Linked DNA regions of Homo sapiens: region 2 is linked to region 1. The links come from fine-mapping of genetic effects on gene expression. A gene starts in region 1. The other region holds a variant in brackets. All regions are shown on one strand. Distances are between the middles of the regions. Region 1 holds the start of AIFM1 (apoptosis inducing factor mitochondria associated 1). Region 2 has its middle 19 kb from the start of ZDHHC9.

Evidence for each region. PIP is the estimated chance that this variant, and not a neighbour inherited with it, causes the effect.
Region 2: its variant is fine-mapped to the expression of AIFM1 in monocytes (TOPMed, PIP 0.98).

What each region holds. Positions count from the first base shown.
Region 1 is chrX:130,158,105-130,170,116 of GRCh38, forward strand. AIFM1 (apoptosis inducing factor mitochondria associated 1) reads right to left here and starts at 7,737. Exons shown (of 16, transcript NM_004208.4): 1 at 7,447-7,737. The coding sequence starts at 7,552. It also overlaps a transcript of RAB33A not described here. RefSeq lists an enhancer at 7,386-7,725.
Region 2 is chrX:129,857,314-129,869,325 of GRCh38, forward strand. No RefSeq gene overlaps it. Among named protein-coding and RNA genes, the nearest start is that of ZDHHC9, 19 kb to the left of the region's middle. The variant T/A (reference allele first, on the strand shown) is at 6,628.

The sequences.
Region 1 (12,012 bases):
ATACAAAAAATTAGCCGGGCGTGGTGGCTTATGCCTATAATCCCAGCTACTCGGGAGGCTGAGGCAGGAGAATAGCTTGAACCCAGGAGGCGGAGGTTGCAGTGAGCCGAGATTGTGCCATCGCACTCCAGACTGGGCAACGAGAGCGAAACTCCATTTCAAAGAAAAAAAAAGAGAAAAAGAAAAAAGAAAAAAAATGCAAAACCCACTCATGGCTCCTGGGGCATACAAAAGCAGGTGACTGACTGGCTTTGGCCTGTGGCTGTAGTTGGCAGACCCCGATCTAGAGCAGTGGTTTTCAAACTTGAGAGTGTATCCCAATGCCCTGAAGGTTTTATAAAACAAAGCTGGCCAGGCCCCAGGCCCAGAGGTTCTGATTCAATAGATCTGGGATGGGGCTCAAGAATGTGCATTTCTAACAAGTTCCCAGGGGATGCTGCTGTTGCTGCTGCTGCTGTTAGGGTGGGGACCACACATTGAGAACCATCTGTCTAGAGCAGGTATATCCTATCTTTTGGCTTCCCCGAGCCACATGGGAAGAAGAAGAATTGTCCTGGGCCACATATAAAATACACTAACACTAACCATAGCTGATGAGCTAAAAAAAAAAAAAAAAAAAAAAAAAAAATCGCAAAAAAATCTCATAATGTTTTAAGAAAGTTTACAAATTTGTGTTGGGCTGCAGGTTGGACAAGCTTAGTCTAGAGGCTGATACTTATGTCCCTGTCCTGTCTAGGCTTTAAAAGACAAACAGAATGGACACTGGTAGTAGCATCCCATGTATACTTGCAGAGATTAGAGAAGGAATTTCCCCCTTGCTTTCATAACGTTAGGCCACAGACGGGTAAAAACAAGCCCAATGTGGATCTGTGGTCTCTCATCTGAAATCCTGGGGACCATGTATAATTTGGAACTTTGAATTATCTGGTCTTAAGTATATGGGGCATATACCACATAGTGACACCTAGCAAGGTAAAGGGCAGCAATTCATAGTTAAACATATTAATATGACCAATCACGCTAAGTGATATTTTAAAAAGATTATAAAGTAGCCTCTCTCCAGTTCAGGTCAGGTTTTACTGGCAAATGAGTTATGAAAACTTGATAGTCTTAAATTTTGGTCATTCTACAATTTCAATTTCTGAATTACAGATAAGAGACTTTAGATCTACACTCTTAGAAAAGGAAATGTATTTTTCTTTACTGTTCTTCTTACCTGCTTTTAGAACTCTTCATCACCACATGAAATAAAATGGTTGAGATTTGGAAATAATGACAAATCATGAAAATAAAAACGTGAGCGGGGCAGAAACTTATCTCAATCTGGGCAAGCTTTTGATTTTCAGAAGCTTACAAAAATAATGAACCATCAGAAGTAGAAAGTGGTAACTCTCAGAGCTTAGAAAATGAAACTGGTTAGGAAAAGTTCCATGTGATTTAGTTCAATGAATTTAGTTTGTCCTCCACCTCTACCCCTGGTTCATTTACTAAAAATAAATTTTTTTTGTTTTTGTTTTTCTTTTTTTTAATTCTGTTTATTCCTCCAGAAGACCCTAAATACAGACATTATAACAAATTTGTTTTAATATCATACTCATGTTTATTCTCCTTCTGCTTGCTTTTCACAAACTGATAATACTAACAGTGTAGATTTAGGAAAGTTCAGCAGCTTTTGTCTCAATTTGCCAAAAAAAAAAGAAAAAAGCATTTAAAAGTAAATGGACTTTTTTTTTTTGAGACAGGGTCTCACTCTGTCCCCAAGCTGGAGTGCAGTGGCACAATCTCGGCTCACTGCAACCTATGCTTCCTGGGCTCAAGCCATTCACCAGCCTCAGCCTCCTGTGTAGCTGGGACTACAGGCGTGAGCCACCAACGCCCAGCTAATTTTTCTATTTTTTGTAGATACGAGGTTTCACCATGTTGTCCAGGCTGGAAAAGTAAATTGACTTTAAAAAAAAGTAAACTGGTTAATATTTAAACTACTGCTTGAAAAGAAATGTAATACACTACTCTCATTAATAAACCAACTTTTAAAACTTTTTATATACCTACAAAGTGACTTTAATTTTGTAAAATGTACTAAGTATTGTTTGCTTACATTCCCCCTCCCCACATTTTCTTTTCCCTATGAAATTCCTCCCAAACCTTTCTCCCCATAGCTTCAAAATTTTAGGAAATATTACATCGTGACTGAAACATGCCTTTTCACTTGTCTTACTAACATGGAAAAGCCAACTTACTCCTTGACTTTTCATCATGGCAGCAGTTTACTTATTTTAGGTTTTCTGCAGTCAGACCACACATACAATGCAATTTCTTCCTCACACTTAGGATTTCATTCTTAAGAAGCCAGTTTGACCTGTGCAACAGCGCCAGACGACACACAGATGTTTGCTCAATAAATATTTGTTGAATTAATGAAGGAAGGAAATAGAAATTCTTCCTAATTCTATTGATATTGACTGAACATTCTTATTACTATTAAAATTTTTTTTAAATGAAAAGGTATCAGTATGTTGCCCAGACTAGACTCAAACTCCTGGGCTCAAGTGATCCTTCCACCTTAGCCTCCAGAATAGCTGGGACTACAGGCATGCACCATCGTGCCCGGATAACTGAACATTTTAAATAATTCTTTGCAAAGAAATTTTAGCCAGGGCAGGCGCGGTGGCTCACATCTGTAATCCCAGCACCTTGGGAGGCCGAGGTTGGTGGATCACTTGAGACCACGAGTTTGAGACCAGCCTGGCCAACATGGTGAAACCCCGTCTCTACTTAAAAATAAATAAATAAATAAATAAATAAATAAATAAAATGAAAAAATAAACTTAAGAGTTTTTTTTAAAAAAAGCTTTAGCCAGATTCCATTTATTTTAGGTTGCTTAATCATAAATGAGTAACCTCAAACACCATAGACCAGCATTAGAATAGTAGCTAAACTAGCAAGTTCATTTCTGTAGGTTTTGTGATTTCCTGTTTTTCCATACTCCCAAAAGGCGTTTTCCAAAAACACAACTTCACAATTGAGGCACCCAGGGATCCTAAATGGTTAAGAGATCTATACGTTCTTGAGACTTGTTTCCTGAGGGTCAAACTGATTTTTCCAGCATGGAGAAAACACAGGACAGCCAGGTGCGGTGGCTCACACTTGTAATCCCAGCACTTTGGGAGGCCGAGGTGGGCGGATCACGAGGTCAGGAGTTCGAGACCAGCCTGGCCAATACAGTGAAACCCCGTCTCCACTAAAAATACAAAAATTAGCTGGGCGTGGTGGCAGGTGCCTGTAATCCCAGCTACTCGGGAGGCTGAGGCAGGAGAATCACTTGAACCCAGGAGACAGAGGTTGCAGTGAGCTGAGATTGTGTCACTGCACTCCAGCCTGGGCAACAGAGCAAGACTCTGTTTGAAGAAAAAAAAAAAAAAAAAAACACAGGACAAGCCTAGATAGTCTGTCCATTGTAGATAAATGATTCTTTACAAGGGATCCAACAACTATTTATCAGCCTTTTTTTTTTTTTTTTGAGACAGATTCTCGCTCTGTCGTCCAGGCTGGAGTGCAGTGGTGTGATCTCGGTTCACCGCAACCTCCACTTCCCGGGTTCAAGCAATTCTCCTGCCTCAGCCTCCCGAGTAGCAGGGATTACAGGCATGTGCCACCACGCTTGGCTAATTTTTGATTTTTAGTAGAGACGGGGTTTCTCCATGTTGGTCAGGCTGGTCTTGAACTTCCAACCTCAAGTGATCTGCCCACCTTGGCATACCAAAGTGCTGGGATTACAGGCGTGAGCCACCACGCCTAGCTATCAGCCTTTTTTAATTTTTTAATATCAACCCTTGCTGGAATTTTAGAAGAAACAGAGTAGTAATAACTATAGTACAGCGTGAACCATTCTGATGAAAGACACACAAGGAAAAATTATTTAGATAACAAAATAAAATCTCTCTTCTGCAAAGTTAAGTCCTTCACAATGCTGTACTAGGGTTCAGTCACGAGAATTTACCATGTGCCAGAGATGGTACAAGATGCTAAGGACACAAAAATAAATAGGACATAATCCATGTCCTCAGGTAGTGTTTAATTTAGGAGAATGGCTGCTACTATTCTGAATATGAGAAAATGAGCTTGATACAAATCACAAGAGACTCCAGATTGCTCAGTTTGGTTTTTTAATCCTTACGTCAGCAAAACAGAAGGGGAAGAGTCACTACTCATCCAAAACAGTATATACCAAACTTGTCTGATCATATGAATGTCAAGGGGCTTGTTAAAATACAGATTCCCAGAATTATCTCCTGGAGAAGGTTAGGAACTGGTTCTCTACTCGATTCACATGAGCAGGCAACTTTTGGAAACATGATCTAGAAGAAAGCTAAGACATGCAGTAACTCCCTCAAAAAGTTAGAACATTTCTAGAAAATGTAACTTATTAACTGGTTACAGAAAGGGCTGAGCTGCCAAAGAATTTCTTCTGCAAAGCCTTGTCTCAGCAGAAACAACGGGGGAAGACTCATCTTTTAGGCTTCAAAACGAAGTCACATTTGGCAGTGTCCAGGAAGCCAGGATCCTTGCCCACAAGGAGCTCAGTTTCCTTTTTAAAGAGGTGAGAAGGATTCCAAATAGAGAAAAACGTTCAAACATTTGAACCTAAAGTCAGGGAGTCGGTGATCAGTTTGATAACATGGGCAGCACTGTTTGGTGACCAAACAAAATATTATAGAACAGAAAATGTCTATTATCTAACCTATCTGCTCCTCTGTGTCTGAATGCAGACATAGAGTGATGACTATGAGTTACCTTCAATCATCTCTGGAAGGAGGCAGAGCATCCAAATAAATAAAGTAAATAAACAAATAGTAGCTATCATGGTTTTAAGGCAGAATGCAACATATAATGGAAATGAACCTGACAATGGTGACAGATGTCAACGAGATAGTTGCAAGGCAGGTTTAAAGTTTAAAGGTTTGGGAGGCTGAAGCAGGTGGATCACAAGGTCAGGAGTTTGAGACCAGCCTGGCCAGCATGGTGAAACCCCGTCTCTACTAAAAATACAAAAAATTAGCCCGGCGTGGTGGTGCATGCCTGTAGTCCCAGCTACTTGGGAGGCTGACGCAGGAGAATTGCTTGAACCCAGCAGGCAGAGGTTGCAGTGAGCCAAGATCGTGCCACTGCACTCTGGGAAACTGAGCGAGACTCCGCCTCAAAAAAAAAAAAAAAAAAAAGTTTAAAGGTAAGGTGGAGGGAGAAATGGTGTATAAACGAACCTTGCTCTTTCCCACCTGTGCAAAAACACACGGTAGATGCTACTACATGAAAAAGAAATCAGATTAAAAGCAGTTAGGAATCAAGCCACAAAACAGAGTTAATTCCTAAAATGAGAGTATCAGAACTTCTTTTTGAAAATTTAACACTACCCTCACCCATTTTTAAAGGCAGATGATGTCATACTTTGGTGCACGGCCAAAGGACAAAGAACAAGTGTATGCAAAGAGATGGATGGATATGTCAGGAAGTCCGAATATATTCTACAGTAGACTGCCTTCAAACAAAGACATGCAGTGGAAAAAACCATTTGAGTCTGTATTTTTCAGTAGTTCTAACAACACCAACCACTTTCCAATGTCTAATAAATCAACTTAACTTTGCAAATGCATATTTAATTGATGAGAACTTTTGGTCAGACTTTAGAATGCTGGTAAAAGTTGTGAGACTTAAGCAAAACAACTACTCAAAGTTTGAAAGGCCAGTGTGGATGAAAAAATTCAGGTTATCGCCGGGCGCGGTGGCTCACGCCTGTAATCCCAGCGCTTTGGGAGGCCGAGGTGGGCGGATCACGAGGTCAGGAGATCGAGACCATCCTGGTTAACATGGTGAAACCTTGTCTCTACTAAAAATACAAAAAAAAAAAAAAAAAAATTAGCCGGGCGTGGTGGCGGGTGCCTGTAGTCCCAGCTACTCTGGAGGCTGAGGCAGAAGAATGGCGTGAATCCGGGAGGCGGAGATTGCAGTGAGCCGAGATCGCGCCACTGCACTCCAGCCTGGGCGACAAAGCGAGACTCCGTCTCAAAAAAAAAAAAAAAAAAAATTCAGGTTATCTCAATTTCTGTGCAACAAGCACAGAGCACCATCATTTCAATACACAAAACCCTCAAAGATGACATCCATTGATAAGGCATTAGTTTAAAAGCTAAGCAGAGGTTTTAAGTTCCAAGAGCAGTATGTCCCAGGACATAACTCAAATACACCTATCAGGAAACATTTTCATTGTGCATAGCAACTGGAAAAACTGTTCAAATGCACATTTGCAAAGACCCTAACAACCCAAGGAAAATATTTTCCACTTTTTATTTTTAAAGCACCCAGGTGTTTCTGTATTGTAAAAGCCTCAAGGATAACTTCTGACATTGCAAATGCCCTAGGGGTGGACATTGAAGGATTACTGATTTTTTTTTCAAAGCAACTCCTACAGGTGGATCATTCATTGCCCCCATGAAGTAACGCAGTACGAAAAGAAGCAGGCTCAAGCCATGCTCAGATAAATTCACGGATATCTGATGTACAATGGGCTAATTACTGGGAAGAGACCCGAATTCATTCTTAACTTTTTGAGGTCAACTTTAGGAAGCAGTATGGAGTTGCAGCGAAGGGATTAAGGACCTGGAGGCTAGCAAACTATCCTTAGCTCTACCTATTAATTAACTATGTGACCTTTGGCAAGTAATTTCACCTCTCTGTGCCTCAGTTTATTATCTATAAAATGAGTGGGTTGACCTTTACCACAAAATCCCTTCCAGCTCTAAAATTTGATGAAACAACTTAATGGAGAACAAAATACAATGCGTTCTGCAAACTGTTTCTTTGAAGCCTTAAAGACCACCAAGAAGTACACGGCTCAGGCATCTCCAATTAAGTCTGGGCCAATTCTCTGGGTGTCTGGTACACAACCAACCGACTCCTTACTTGCCCTGCACCGTTTCTGTTTCACTGGGCATTCAAATCCATGGATCTCATCTGTGGTTTGGAAGGCTGAGCAGATAACACCCTCATTTACACAAGAAACTTAGGCGTAGGGCTTAAACGTCCTGTTTAAAGTCTCAATCGGTAAATGACAAAGTCTACTTGACCTCATTGCTCTAAAAAGGGGGGTGGGGGGTGGGGATGCCGGGGAGGCGCCGACAGCCAGTTGTTCTGGGATCCCTGAACAGCAAACGCTCCCGGGAAAAGGCCTCAAGCCGACTACTGGGTTCAAATCTCTTGAAGGTCAGGTCGGCATGGCTGAGCCAATTCCTCCGCTTGCAAGACTCAGGGTTCGGAGTCTGCCAATTTGGAATTCACGTGACTATGTGTTAAGTTTCTCGCGGGGACGCGGGGGTAGAGGGCTGCAAGGCACAGGGAGCCTAAGGCGCCAGGCCCTCGGACTTGGAGGTTGCCTGGAATGGGTCAGTCACCTGGGAGCCGGTTCCTCTGCCTCGGGCTTCGGACGCACACGGTCCGCACCAAGGGCACCAGCTTCTGCTTCAAAGCACCCGCCGCCAGGCCTCCACACCGGAACATTTCGGCGACCGCTATTCGGGACCTCCTCCTTCCCTTTCCTCTCACGCACGACCGACGGGTCAAACACCGTGAGCCCCGGCCAGCTCCCCCAGTCTCTTCACACGCACATTACGCAGACTCCTCCTCCCAGCTCCGGGTGGGCATTGGACAGAGAAGCCGGCCTGCTAGAGCCGGGGAAGGGGAACGGCGACCGGAGGCCTACTGCGCAGGCGTAGCACTCGCTGCCGCATTGCGATTGGTCCGCACGGCGAGAGGATTTGCGCATGCACTAGCTGGCCGCAAGCTCGCAAAGACGCTGGCTCTAGGTAGCCGGTTTTCGCGAGTTTGTGGCACAGTGTTGGACTGAACGAGTTAAGGAACCTGTTCAAGGAGGGACTCGTGGGGCCGCTTTGATTGGCGGTTGTGCCTGGTGCTGCCGCTGTGTTGGTGACGAGAACTGATAACAGCATCTCACAACAGCGTAGCCCCGGCATCGCACTTTGTTTTTTGGTTTTAGGACACCAGTTACTTGATACCGAAGCCTTCCTGATTCTTTTGCAGTGATCCAGATCCAGTTTTTCCATGAGTCCGAGGCGCGGAACCTGGCTTCCCAGATCCGGCGTGTACTTCCATCTTTTACCAGTTGCCGGCTCTTTCCCACCCAACCCGTTTCCTGGACAAGTAATTCTGCGCTCTTCTTCCCGCCTGTCACCTTTATTTATTAGTTCAGTTGTGTGTCCTAGATGCTGTATACCAGGTGCTACAGATACACACAGTCTCCTGCTGTGGTTTCTGTGCTTGGGAGCAGGATGTTAGCAAAAAGCGTTCGTGCTTCTCGGACTTTCTGGGAAGAGAAGTCTGCTAAGCAGAACTTTCAGTTATGGGAGTAGGGTGAGGGGCTGAGTGTAAATAAGTGTTTTGACTCTGCCAGATATAAGCTAAATTGGAAATAATGTTTTGGCTGCATGCAGAACATACAATGTGCCTGTTTCAAAGATTCAGCTTACATATTCATTTAACAAGTATTTATTGAGCACTTACCTCTTGGATTGTACTATAAAAGGGGCTCTGTTGGGTATGAAAAGTACGGATGGTCCCCGACTTACCCCTCACAATGGTTCGACTTACAATTTTTCGACTTTATGATGGGTTTAATGAGACCTAACCCCATGTCAGTCGAGGAGCATCTGGACTTAAGCATGGTTCAACTTACGGTTTTTTGACTTTATGATGGGTTTATCAGGGTATTAAATGCAGTTTCGACTTAACGATATTTTCAGTTTACAATGGGTTTATTTGGACATAGCATCTATATAGGAAGTGGCCACTGTCTAGTTGGGGAGATGACATATACCGGTCATTGAAATAATATCTGGTGTAGTGCCGGACAGAGCAAGAGAGAAGACTATGGGATGGAATCACTATGGTAGAACTTCGTGTAAGAAGTTATTTGAGTTGTGTCTTGAAGGATGAGTAGTAAAATTCAAACAGTAGAGGAAAAGGATTGATATTTCAGATGGTGAATACTTTCGGACCAAAGATAACATTTTTCATTGTTAAACATGTTGACCTTGGATCCAGACCAACCCACATTGAATCCTGGCTCTGCCACCTGGGCAAGTCACTTAATTGTGCCTCATTTTCCTCATCTACAAATCTCAGGAGGGTGTTCGGAAGACTAAATGAGCTAATATTTGTAAAGTGTCTTAGAGGAAGCACCATGCTGTTTGTTAAATGAAAAGGCTTGGAACTGTTTTAAAAAACCAAAACCCAGCACATTTTCGGGGGACAATGATAGAGAGTACATACTAAGAAGTATTGATGTGGTCAGGCTCCGTGGCTCATGCCTGTAATCCCAGCACTTTGGGAGGCCTAGGCGGGTGAATCACTTTAGGTCAGGAGTTTAAGACCAGTCTGGCCAACATGGTGAAACCCCGTCTCTACAAAAAATCCAAAAATTAGCCGGGCGCCATGGCATGCGCCTGTAATCCCAGCTACTAGGGAGACTGAGGCAGGAGACTCGCTTGAACCTGCCAGGTGGAGGCTGCAGTGAGCCAAGATTGTGCCACTGCACTCCAGCCTGGATGATGGAGCAAGACTCTGTCTCCAAAAAGAAAAAAATAAAGAAGTAGTGATAAAGACAGGCAAGTATGGTGGGGGGCCAGATTTGAACTGGCAAGAGTTGGGCCCTAACTTTGGAGGTAATGAAGTTACTTTTTTTTTTTTTTTGGTGGAATGGGGATAGAGAATGAAATTACAGGGCCGGGTGCAGTGGCTCATGCCTGTAATGCCAGTACTTTGGGAGGACGAGTGGGAAGATTGCTTGAGGCCAGGAGTTCCAGACCAGCCTGAGCACATAATGAGACATCATCTCTACCATTTTTTTTTTAAATTAGCCAGGCGTGGTGGTATGTGCCTGTGGTTCCAGCTACTCAGGAGGCTGAGATGGGAGGATCACTTGAGCCTAGGAGATCGAGACTGCAGTGAGCAGTGATTGCTCCCGTGCACTCCAGCCTGGATGACAGAGCGAGACCCTATTTCAAAAAAGAAAAAGAAAGAAATTACAAAGATACTCTTTTTTTTTTTTTTTTTTTCTTGAGACGGAGTCTCCCTTTGTCACCCAGGCTGGAGTGCAGTGGCAGTATCTCGGCTCACTGCAACTTCTGCCTCCCAGGTTCAAGCAATTCTCCTGCCTCAGCCTCCCGAGTAGCTGGGATTACAGGCAGATGCCACCGCGCCCTGCTAATTTTTCTATTTTTAGTAGAGACGGGGTTCCACAATGTTGTCCAGGCTGGTCTTGAACTCCTGATCTCAGGTGATCGCCCGCCTCGGCCTCCCAAAGTGCTTGGATTACAGGCATGAGCCACCTCGCCCGGCCTACAAAGACACCCTTCTGTGAAGTTTAACCCAGGAAGTAGTTTTGTTTTTTGGTTTTCTTTAAGAGACAGTCTCATTACGTTGCCCAGGCTGGTCTTGAACTCCTGGGCTCAAGCAATCCTGCTGCCTCAGCCTCTCAAAGTGTTGGGATTACACGTGTGAGCCACTGTGCCAGGCCTAGGAAGTAGTCATTATGTGGTGAAGATGATCCAGGGCTCCCTTACCCATTAAGCAGAGTAGATCAGTGTTCAGAAGTGCAGGCAATGGGTGACATTTTATCTAGAGCTCCTTTGGATAAATATTGAAAATATGGTCAGGCTCTGTGGCTCATGCCTGTAATCCCAGCACTTTGGGAGGCCGAGGAGGGTGGATCACTTTAGGCCAGGGGATAAATATTGAAAGTATCAATTCCAGGCCGGGCACGGTGGCTCATGCCTGTAATCTCAGCACTTTGGGAGGCCAAGGCGGGCGGATCACGAGGTCCGGAGATCGAGACCAGCCTGGCTAACACAGTGAAACCCCGTCTCTACTAAAAATACAAAAAAATTAGCCAGGCGTGGTGGCGGGCGCCTGTAGTCCCAGCTACTTGGGAGGCTGAGGCAGGAGAATGGCGTGAACCTGGGAGGCGGAGCTTGCAGTGAGCCGAGATTGTGTCACTGCACTCCAGCCCGGGTGACAGAGCGAGACTCCATCTCAAAAAAAAAAAAAAAAAGTATCAATTCCAAAGTAAGGTAAAAATTATTTATATTTACTTAACATTTTAACAGCCTTGCATTGATTTTTATTGATATTTGTAAAAACCAATAATCATGGATTGATTAAATACAAAGTTAATTATATCTGATGGCAAAAGAGACTGGAAAACACTGTCAAAATCATGATAATCAGGTACCTATGAAAACAACTGCATGTATTTGAAAGTAATTTAATAATGCACAATTAACACAAAGGGCATTGTACAGTACATTTAATTTTTTTACAATAGGTACAATAAGGTAGTTTTCCTGTCCTTTTAATTAAAAATTATATTTTTATCTTTTTTCAAAAGCAATATATACTCATTGAATTAATTCCAAAAAATATAAGTGGAAATCCCCCAAAGTCTCACCCCACAGAAGTAACAGACACCTTTTATTAGGGCAAGAAGCCCATTTTGAGATATCATATTTTCAGAAATCAAAGTTTCTTCCTTACAAAAGTAGACTCAGTGACAAGTTTTTGCTAGAAGCTTACATTGAAATAATCTTATTATGTACATATGTTTTTTTAATATCTCTCAGGAAGTTAGCATTAATTCTAGCTGTGAATTGGCAAAGGGCAAAGCCCCTTTCTACTTTGTGTACAGGATGTACCTAATTAATAGTTACCCCTCTCCACCTTAAAGCTATTCTGTAGATAAAGATCATCAGGGGCATTAACTTCCAATACAGAGGGGAACGATCCAGCAAACTAGGCATCAGACTAATCAAAACCAAAAATACTGTACAATGATGATTGATACATAATACAATGAAAATTGGTATTCATAAGGATGATTTTGGATTAGCCAACTAAGAGGAAATCCTTATCTGGGTAGTTTTAATGCTGAGTAGTATAATGTAGGG
Region 2 (12,012 bases), 300 kb before region 1:
ATGAATCTGGGTGCTCCTGTATTGGATGCATATATATTTAGGATAGTTAGCTCTTCTTGTTGAATTGATCCCTTTACCATTATGTAATGGCCTTCTTTGTCTCTTCTGATCTTTGTTGGTTGAAAGTCTGTTTTATCAGAAACTAGGATTGCAATCCCTCCTTTTTTTTTGTTTTGCATTTGCTTGGTAGATCTTCCTCCATCCCTTTATTTTGAGCCTATATGTGTCTCTGCACGTGAGATGGGTTTCCTGAATACAGCACACTGATGGGTCTTGACTCTTTATCCAATTTGCCAGTCTGTGTCTTTTAATTGGAACATTTAGTCCATTTACATTTAAGGTTAATATTGTTATGTGTGATTTTGATCCTGTCATTATGATGTTAGCTGGTTATTTTGCTCGTTAGTTGATGCAGTTTCTTCCTAGTATCGATGGTCTTTACAATTTGGCATGTTTTTGCAGTGGCTGGTACCGGTTGTTCCTTTCCATGTTTAGTGCTTCCTTCAGGAGCTCTTGTAAGGCAGGCCTGGTGGTGACAAAATCTCTCAGCATTTGCTTGTCTGTAAAGGATTTTATTTCTCCTTCACTTATGAAGCTGAGTTTGGCTGGATATGAAATTCTGGGTTGAAAATTCTTTTCTTTAAGAATGTTGAATATTGGCCCCCACTCTCTTCTGGCTTGTAGAGTTTCTGCCGAGAGATCTGCTGTTAGTCTGATGGGCTTCCCTTTGTGGGTAACCTGAAATTTCTCTCTGGCTCCCCTTAACATTTTTTCCTTCATTTCATCTTTGGTGAATCTGACAATTACTTGTCTTGGAGTTGCTCTTCTTGAGGAGTATCTTTGTGGCGTTCTCTGTATTTCCTGAATTTGAATTTTGGCCTGCCTTGCTAGTTTGTGGAAGTTCTCCTGGATTATATCCTGCAGAGTGTTCTCCAACTTGGTTCCGTTCCCTGTCTCTTTCAGGTACACCAATCAGACGTAGATTTGGTCTTTTCACATAGTCCCATATTTCTTGGAGGCTTTGTTCATTTGTTTTTACTCTTTTTTCTCTAAACTTCTCTTCTTGCTTCATTTCATTCATTTGATCTTCTATCACTGATACCCTTTCTTCCAGTTGATTGAATCGGCTCCTGAAGCTTGTGCACGCATCATGTAGTTCTCATGCCATGGTTTTCAGCTCCATCAGGTCATTTAAGGACTTCTCTACACTGATTATTCTAGTTAGCCATTTGCCTAATCTTTTTTCCGGGTTTTTAGCTTCTTTGCGATGGGTTCGAACATCCTCCTTTAGCTCAGAGATGTTTGATTGTCTGAAGCCTTCTTCTCTCAACTTGTCAAAGTCATTCTCCATCCAGCTTTGTTCCATTGCTGGTGAGGAGCTGCATTCCTTTGGAGGAGAAGAGGCACTCTGATTTTTAGAATTTTCAGCTTTTCTGCTCTGGATTCCCCCCATCTTTGTGGTTTATCTACCTTTGGTCTTTGATGATGGTGACGTACAGATGGGGTTTTGGTGTGGTTGTCCTTTCTGTTAGTTAGTTTTCCTTCTAACAGTCAGGACCCTTAGCTGCAGGTCTGTTGGAGTTTGCTGGAGGTCCACTCCAGACCCTGTTTGCCTGGGTATCACCAGTGGAGGCTGCAGAACAGCAAATATTGCAGAATAGCAAATGTTGCTGCCTGATCATTCCTCTGGAAGCTTCGTCTCAGAGGGGCACCCGGCCGTGTGAGATGTCTGTAGGCCCCTATTGGGAGGTGCCTCCCAGTTAGGCTACTCGGGGGTCAGGGACCCACTTGAGGAGGCAGTCTGTCTGTTCTCAGATCTTAAACTCCATGCTGGGAGAACCACTACTCTCTTCAAAGCTGTCAGACAGGGACATTTAAGTCTGCAGAAGTTTCTGCTGCCTTTTGTTCAGCTATGCCCTGCCCCCAGAGGTGGAGTCTACAGAAGCAGGCAGGCCTCCTTGAGCTGCGGTGGGCTCCACCCAGTTCGAGCTTCCCGGCAGCTTTGTTTACCTACTCAAGCCTCAGCAATGGCTGGCGCCCCTCCGCCATATTTATTTATTTTTTTAAGAGATAGGGTCTCTCTCTCACTCTGGCCCAGGGTGGAGTACAGTGGCATGATCATAGCTCACTGCCTGCTTGAACTCCTGGGCTCAAGTCATCCTCCTGCCTGAGCCTCCCGAGTATCTGGGACTACAGATGCATGCCACCAAGCCCAGCTAATTTTGTCTCATGTCTACTAAAAATTATTTTGTGAAGGCCCTCTGAACCTTAAGGGAAATCTGATGTTGCTCAGGAATCTAACTCTCCCCAAACCATCCTCTTTGACTGCTTCTAAAATATCTCTGTTGGCCTTTCTTAGCCTTTTTCTGTTTCCATTCAGTGCTCCAAGCACTTTTTGTTTGTCTCTAAGTTGAACGCTTGGGGCTTGACAGGTAGTAACATGTAGTTTGACACTGTTAACTTGTTAAATAAATATAGTGAAAAGTTTGTGAATAAAGAATGCTGAGAAGATTCTTTATTCACAAAGATGCTTTGTACAAATAAAGAACACTCTTGTTAAAAATATATATATATTTTCTCAATAATTAACTATCTATGTGCCGACAGGCAAGTGTCCCCTAAATATTAAGTCTAAACATTTATATTAATAAAATACAACTTTTAGGCCAGGTGCAGTGGCTTGCACCTGTAATCCCAGTACTTTGGGAGGCCGAGGTGAGCAGATCACCTCTTGACAAGAGTTTGGGACCACCCTGGCCAACATGGTGAAACCCCGCCTCTACTAGAAATACAAAAATTAGCCAGGCGTGGTTGTGCATGCCTGTAATCCCAGCTACTCGGGAGGCTGAGGCAGGAGAATCACTTGAACACAGGAGGCGGAGGCTGCAATGGGCCCAGATCATGCACTCCAGCTTGGGCGACAGAGCAAGATTCCATCTTCATAAAAAAAAAAAAAAAGAAAAAGAAAAACAACAACAACAACAACGACAACGACAACAAAAGAACTAACACAGGAAGTGGGCTTTAAGAAGAATGGACTTTATTCTAAGCAATAGACAAAATAAGGAAGAAGCTGGAAGATAGCAGAGATATGGTAAAGAAGGCATATATCTAGCTTAACTACAAAAAAAGGCAATCAAGAATGCCATTTTCTAATAATAAAGGCAGCTAGAATATGGAATGATATAGAGTTATTGATGGAGGTTGTGACATTGGAACTATAAAGAAGAAAATGCAATCAAGGCACATCCCTTGGCTTTACACTGAAAAATATTTATATAATTATAACAATGTAAATACTATCTTTATTGGTTTTCAACTTTTGGAATCTAACCTAGAGACAAATCACAGGAAATTTAACTATGATTACAAAGTATAAAGGAAATGTTAAAAACTTAATATAAAAGCATAGCTTACAGAAGTTGGAAAATAGAATGAGGGGAGGTGGAAGGATGTGTAGCGGCACTAATACTCTAATTTTAGAAAGTGTACAATTAAGAGATATTATCTATAGATGAACAAGAAATAGAGGTTTATGTACCTTATATAAAGGCACAAAGAGACCAGGCACAGTGGCTCATGCCTGTAATCACAGGGCTTTTGGAGCCTGAGGTGGTGGATTGCTGGAGCCCAGGAGTTCAAGACTAGCCTGGGCAACATGGCGACACTTGTCTCTAAAAAAAATCAAAAAATTAGCTGGGCATGGTGATGCAAGTCTGTCACCCCAGCTACTCAGAAGGCTGAGATGGGAGGATCACTTGAGCCCAGGAAGTCGAGGCTGCAGTGAGCTATGATCACATAACTGCACTCCAGCCTGGGCAACAGAGCAAGACTTTGTCTCAAAAAAAAAAAAAGGCACAAAGATAACCAAAAAGGCATGCAAACAAAAAGATACCATTAGAATGATTGCCTCTGGGGAAAGGACCTAAACAGAGAAACTAAAACTAGTGATGTATTAGCAGGAAGAAAAAGGCAGTGCTGCAGCAGAAGTGAGCTAAATCCCCACCTATCAGAGCAGCTCAATAGAGGATGTCTAGAGCTGGTAAACCAAGGAAGGATTCAGAAAAAATGGATTATTGCAACATTCCCCTTACTGGTCTCCCTGCTTCCTCCCTAACCCCCTTTTAGTCTGTTATTCACAGAGCAGCTAGAGAGATTCTTTTGAAACCTACCTCCACCCATGACTTGTCCAATGGCTTGCTATCTCACTCAGAACAAAAGCCAAAGCCATAACAATGGTTTACTAGGCCTTATGCCATCATCTGCCTCACCATCCCCCGACCCCTGCAGCTCCTGCTACTCCCCCTTGCTCATTTCACACCAGCCCCAGGAGCCTCCTTGCTGTTCCTTGAACAAACTGGACATGTTCCCACCTCAGGACCTTGGCACCAGCTGTTCTTTCTGCCTAGAATTATCCTTCCCCAGACATTTGCATGACTTTCTCTATCACCTTCTTCAGGTCCTTACTCAAATGTCGACTTCTCAGAGAGGTTTTCCCTGGCTACTCTATTTGTTTTTGTTTTTGAGACAGAGTCTCACTCTGTCACCCAGGCTGGATTGCAGTGCTGCAATCTTGGCTCACTGCAACTTCCACCTCCCAGGTTCAAGCGATTCTCCTGCCTCAGCCTCCCAAGTAACTGGGATTACAGGCACCTGCCACCATGCCCGGCTATTTTTTGTACTTTTAGTAGAGATGGGGTTTCGCCACGTTGGCCAGGCTGGTCTCAAACTCCCGACCTCAGGTGATCCACCTGCCTCGGCCTCCCAAAGTGCTGGGATTACAGGCTTGAGCCACCACGCCAGCCAAGAGCAGAGATTTTCATCCGTTTTGTTGGCTGTTCCATGCCCAGTGTTTAGAACAGTGACTGGCACACAGTAGGTACTTGCTATGGGTTGAATAGTGTCCCCCAAAATTCATGTACTGAAATGCCAGTACCTCAGTATGAAACTATGTTTGGAGATAAGGTCTTCACTAAGGTGATTAAATTAAACTGAGGCCATTGGGGTATGGCCCTGCTCCAATATGACTAGTGTCCTTAGAAGAGGAAGAGACACCAGGGACACACATGCATAGAGGGACAACCAGGTTCGGAGGCAGCAAGACAGCAACCATCTGCAAGCCAAGGAGAGAGGCCTGGAACAGATCCTTCCCTGGTGGCCCTCAAAGGAAACCAGCCCTGCCAGCACCTTGATCTTGAACTTGCAGCCTCCAGAATGGTGAGAAAATTAATTTCTATTGTTTAAGCCACCCAGTGGTATTTTGTGATGGCAGCCCGAGCAAACAAACACAGTGCTCAACTAATATATTGTTTAAGTAAATGGATAAACAGGTGAATGTATATGGCAGAAATCATTAGAAAAACCCAAACCAGAAACAGTTAAGTGGCAGTTCTTAGGGAATGGGACTACAGGTAGGCAGGGGCAAGGCAGGAGATAGTTGCTTTCTATTATGAGTGATTTTTATTTACATAAATGCATTATTATCATGATTATTATTATTATTATTTTCAAGATGGGTCTTGCTGTGTCACCCAGGCTGGAGTGCAATGGTGCAATCATGGCTCACTGCAACCTCAACCTCCCAGGTTCAAGCCATCGTCCCACCTCAGCTTCCTGAGTAACTGGGACTACAGATGCATGCCACCATGCCCAGCTAATTTTTTAAAAATTTTTTGTAGAGATGGGGGTCTTGCTATGTTGCCCAAGCTGGTATTGAACTCCTGGGCTCAAGCAATCCACCCTCCTCAGCCTCCCAAAGTGCTAGAATTATAGGCGGGAGCCACCTTACCCAGCCCAATGCATTATTTTGATAAAGATTTTTAAATGTTAATTTTTTGAGACAGGGTCTTGCTGTGTTCCCCAGGCTGGAGTGCAGTGACTATTCACAGGCTCAATCATGGCGCACTACAGCCTTTAATTCCTGGGCTCGAGATCCTCCCACCCCAGCCTCTGGAGTACCTGGGACTACAGATGAGCACCACCACATCCAGTTTAGATGTTAATTTTTTAAAGGAGTTTTTTGGGAGGCCGAGGCAGGCGGATCACCTGAGGTCGGGAGTTCGAGACCAGCCTGACCAACATGGAGAAACCCCATCTCTACTGAAAATACAAAAATAGCTGGGCAAGAGCAAAATTCCGTCTCCAAAAAAAAAAAAAAAAAAAAAAATGTGGGGGGAATTTACAATTTCCAGAACAAAACATAGGTTTGTGAGGTTTTATATTAGTGGTTCCCCATGAGGGTGATTTTGCCCCCTTCCGAAGGGATATTTGCCAATGTCTAAAGACATTTTTGGGAGAGTGTTACTGGCATCAAAGATGCTGCTAAGCATCTTATAATGCACAGGACAGCTTGCCGCAACAAGGAGTTATTCAAACCAGAATGCCAATAGGGGCAAGGCTAAGGAACCCTGCTTTAAATAAATGTGTGGATCATAGATGCATAACAAGTTATTACGGAGCGTTATGACTGTTTAGTAAATAGAGTCAACCTGTGAGAAGAACATGATGTAGGAAACCCACCATACTATCCCACAATCCATTTTTTTTTTTTTTTTTTGAGACAGAGTCTTACTCTGTCACCCAGGCTGGAGTGCAATGGCAAGATCTCGGCTCACTGCTACCTCCACC[T/A]CCCGGGTTCAAGTGATTCTCCTGCCTCAGCCTCCCGAGTAGCTGGAATTACAGGCACATGCCACCATGCCTGGCTAATTTTTGTATTTTTAGTAGAGACAGGGTTTCACCATGTTGGCCAGGCTGGTCTCGAACTCCTGGCCTCAAGTGATCCACCCACCTCGACCTCCCAAAGTGCTGGGATTATAGGCGTGAGCCACCGCGCCCAGACCCACAATCCATTCTTTAGTGCCTCAGAGAAAAATTCTAGACCAAGTGATAGTTCCAACAGCAGTGCTAGGAATATAGGAAGCATAGTAAATACAGAGTTCTTTACTGACTTCTGTCCACAGGTCCTATATAAGCCTTCATTATCTACAAATGCAAATCCCATATTACCTCACTCTCCCTTCACTGCCTCCTCCTGTCAATCTAATGCCTCCCCTTGCTCTTCACGAGTCAACACTCAACACTACCGTCTTTCTTTTATCCCAAACCCCAATTCCAACATTTCTCCCAGACCACAACTCATGCTGTAATACCTTCTCTGCATCTCCTTTCTGTCATTTACACAGCACCTCTTTGATGAAATCCTCTCCAACTTCTTGGAAAAGAGTGAATAATTTCTCCCTGATTCCATCTTGCATAAAACCACAACCCCCTCCTTGCTCAACAACCTACCAAAAGCACCTACTTTTTTACACATATGCACTAAATAAATATTAAACTTCTGGATGTGTTAGGTGTTTGGGTTCTTGTACACTCATGATAAAGGTGTCTGTGTTCATGTTATGTCCAGCTAGAAGTAGTTTAGACAAATGTCTGCTGATCCGGTCTGGGAATATGGTTTCTAAGGAGGAGTTTGAGAAGGAACAAGAGTGGTCACTGTTCCATGCTACTACTCGGAACATTAGTTTTTCACCTTGAAGAGCAACATTTTTTGCTGCCAGATACTGAGAGCTTGCTAAGGAGGGGGAAATGTCTTGTTCCAGAATCAATGCACTGTGGAATATTTGTAAAAGGAAACGTAAGAAACTTGTAATAGTGGTTACCTTCAGGGGAAGGAACTGGAGAACTTGGAGATAAGGGAGAAAGAGAGACCTAATTTTCAGTGTATGCCCTTTGATAACTTTGGAACTTTGCTCCATGTGCCTATATTAGCTATACAAAAATATTAATTTTTATATCAGTATATTGTACAAAACTATACTTGTTTTTTTGAGACAGAGTCTTGCTCTTGTTGCCCAGGCTGGGGTGCAGTGGCACGATCTCAGCTCACTGCAACCTCTGCCTGCTGGATTCAAGCAATTCTCCTGCCTCAGCCTCCCAAGTAGCTGGGATTACAGGCAAGTCTCAACACACCCAGCTAATTTTTGTATTTTTAGTAGAGATGGGATTTCACCATGTTGGCCAAGCTGGTCTTGAACTCCTGACCTCAGGTGATCCGCTCATCTTGGCCTCCCAAAGTGCTGGGATTACAGGCGTGAGCCACTGTGCCCGGCTGAGCTATAGTATTTGGATCTTAAGCCAAACCTCTGCACAGCTACAATTGGATATAATATTATCATATTTCTTATATTTAAAACTGAGGTATTAAATATGTATTTCAGCAATCTATTAGACTCTGAATCCCACACAGTGAAAAAACTAAAAAGAAATTAGGTCAGGTGTGGTGTTTCACAACTGTAATCCCAGCAGTTTGGAAGGCCAAGGCAAGTGGATCACTTGAGCCAAGGAGTTCGGTATCAGTCTGGGCAATGTGGCGAGATCCCTATCTCTACAAAAAAGTCAAAAAATTAGCTGGGCATGGTGGTGCACACCTGTAGTCTCAGCTACTTGGGAGGCTGAACTGGGAGGATTGCTTGAGCCTGGGAGGATCGTTTGAGCCCAGGAGGTCAAGGCTGCAGTCAGCTATAATCACACCACTGTACTCCCACCCAGGAAACAGAGGGAGATTCTGTCTCAAAAAATAAATAAATAAGGATAATTGGAGGTGTGAAAAAGTTGCAGTGACAAAATTTTAAGTACATTTCAATGTACGATATATAATTGATTGATCAGGAGTTTTAAGTACTCTAATACAGATTACAAGTGAAGACCATTTTATCAAGGAATACATAGTTCCTTGTCTTGTTTTAATTTGGATGTAATAATGACAAGAGACCAAATACCTTAGGGTAAAAGAATGCTTTATTGAGGACTCCTTTTCCTCAAAATTTCTGCCTTCTCCCAGTGACTGTAAGATCAAATTTCACAAATTTTAAACACACACACACACACACACACACACACTGAAATTTCCCTTGTCCAAACTGAGCCTCTAATATGAAGATACACTCCTTTTTCATCTGAACTCTAAGGCCTGTCTAAACTTGAGGATGTCTACCAAACCTCTGGCCATCCAAGATAAATGGTCCCCATTCTTTTTTTTCTTTTCTTTTCTTTTTTCTTTATTTCTTCTAAAAAAAAATGGGATACATGTGCAGAACGTGCAGGTTTGTGGAACCAACCCAAATGCCCATCAATTATAGACTGGATAAAGAAAATGTGGTACATATACACCATGGAATACTACGCAGCCATAAAAAGGAATGAGATCATGTCCTTGGCTGGGATATGAATGAAGCTGGAAGCCATCATCTTCAGCAAACTAACACAGGAAAAGAAAACCAAACACTGCATGTTCTCACTCATAAGTGGGAGTTGAACATTGAGAACAAATGGCCCCCGTTCTAATATACCTTCCCCAGGCAAGTCTAGGAAATTGGCTTTCATTCTCACTGATGAGCCTCACCCTACCTCCCAAAACATCTTGCTTCTAACCTCTGAATTCATTGCACAAAAGCTAAACTGAAGACTAATTTTCAAAAGGTGATATGAGTATGAAAAAAAAAAGAAGACAAAGAAGAAGAATGTGCTTTTTAACCTTTCTCTTCTAAATGGGGAAAGTATCAGGTTAAGCGGAATCCCAGCCATGCTATCTACCTTACCTGGAGCTGTTCAGTATACTTTCTGTCCCTCTACTTTCTGTGTTTCTGTTCTGGGTTAGATAGATACCCCACCAGTTATTACACTTATCTGTGGAAATTTAATCTCTCTAATTTTTTTTTTTTTTTTTTGAGACAGAGTCTCACTCTGTCATCCAGGCTGGAATGCAATAGCGTGATCTCGGCTCACTGCAACCTCCACCTCCCGGGTTCAAGCAATTCTTCTGCCTCAGCCTCCTGAGTAGCTGGGATTACAGGCACGTACCACCACACCTGGCTAATTTTTGTATTTTTAGTAGAGACAGGGTTTCACCATGTTGGTCAGGCTGGTCTCGAACTCCTGACCTCAAGTGATCCACCCACCTCGGCCTCTCAAAGTACTGGGATTACAGGCGTGAGCCACTGTGCCTGGCCTAATCTCTCTAATTCTAAAATAAAAATATTAGGCCGGGCATGGTGGCTCACACCTATAATCCCAACACTTTAGGAGGTCAAGGCAAGAGGGAGTTCAAGACCAGCCTGGGCAACATGGTGAAACCCCATCTCTACAAAGAATACAAAAATTTGCCAGGCATGGTGGCACATGCCTGTGGTCCCAGCTACTCAGGAGACTGAGGTGGGAGGATCACTTGAGCCTGGAAGGTCAAGGCTGATGTGAGCCATGATCACACCACTGCACTCCATCCTGGATGACAGAGAGACTCTGTCTCAAACAAATACATAAAATAAAAAGTCTTCTCTTCACCCTTACTAAATCTATTCCTATCTAACAATAGCTTAATCGGTTGTGCATGTACACTGACCGGTGTATAGGCTGCTCAGGCTGCCATAACAAAATACCACAGACTCACTGGCTTAAACAACGCAAATGTATTTTCTCAGAGTTCTGGAGACTGGAAGTCCCAGATCAAGGTGCCAGCCAATTTGATTACTTGAGAGTGCTCTCTTCCTGGCTTACAGAAAGCCTCCTTTTTATGAAATAGGAAAGAAGAAACAGCAGCACCCTATTCTCCCACCCTTTAACCAAGGAAGTGCTGAGATGCTAGTAAAGTCTTGTATCAAAGCAAACAAATGCCACAACACTGATTTGTCTTCTTTGAATCCCCATTCCTCCTAATATCCACTAGGTCAAAACTCTGCTGGGGAGACTGGAATACAGACATTGGCCTACCCTGTCCTATTGTGATTGCAGGTTCACAGGAAAATGGCAACTATGTCCATTTAACTCACTCTCTACAGTATTGTTGGGCAGAGAAGCATTTAAATGCTTTTGATGATGATGATTATAGAGAAAAATGAAATATAAATGGCTACTGACAAGTCTCATTGTAGCAACTTTTATAACCCCATTATTAAGGAGATGAATATTTTCATATTCCTAAACAAGAGGTAATAACATGTCTAAAGCCTCTTTGCCCCTCACTTATTTTGTTAAAATGCTATTCTCATTTATTCTCGCATCTTTTCCCCCTTGGTGTGCATTAGTTACTATGGAAACATCAGGATACCATAGTTTGAGGTTATCAACATTCTCAAGTTCTATTAGAGTTTGAAGGCAATTTATATCAAGGTGTTGGAGAAGGGGGTTGTTGCTGAGGCTTAGAAATGAATGAAAGAGAAAATAAAATGTATGGTACAGCCAGACAAACACAGGCCTTATTCAGAAAGCACCAGAGAAGGGTTGGGAGGTCATCTCATCTGCCCAATTTATCTACCAGAATCCTGACTGTAGTCAATGAGGTCTATCAAGTAAAGATATTTATGTATAACAACACCACCATGGGTTCTTTCAACTGAGAGCTTTAGCGGAACAGTTTTAAAAACTAGTAGAGTGACTGAACCACACACACTACGGAATTTATTATATGCACATTACTGAGTAATTGACTTCATTATAAACAAAGACACACACACCAAGTACATCGAATACGAAGTCCACATTCCAACCATCAGATTAACCAACCTACATGTATCTGTATCTGTTCTTTCTGCCGTTCATCCTATTACAATATATGAGAGTCCCAGAAGAGTTCAACCACTTTTATGATTTCAACTATCACCCATATGCTGAAGATTCCCAAATAGATATTTTGATCCCAGACCTTTGCCCACTTGCGTGTGGGTATCTAGTATATATCTCCACCACAATGCCTCACATACAATTAAAACTGAATTTATCTTGTGTATTAGTCAAGGTTCCTGAGGGTTCTCCAAGATATGTATAATGAGAGAGACAGAGATTTATTATAAGGAATTGGCTCATGCAGTGATGGAGACTGAGAAGTCCCATGATGTGCCGTCTGCAAGCCGGAGATCCGAGACAGCTGGTGGTATAGTTCCAGTCCAAGTCTCCTGAGAACAGGAGAAGCAAGGTGTAAGTTCCAGTTCACCTGCAAGAGAAGACCAATGTCCCAGCTCA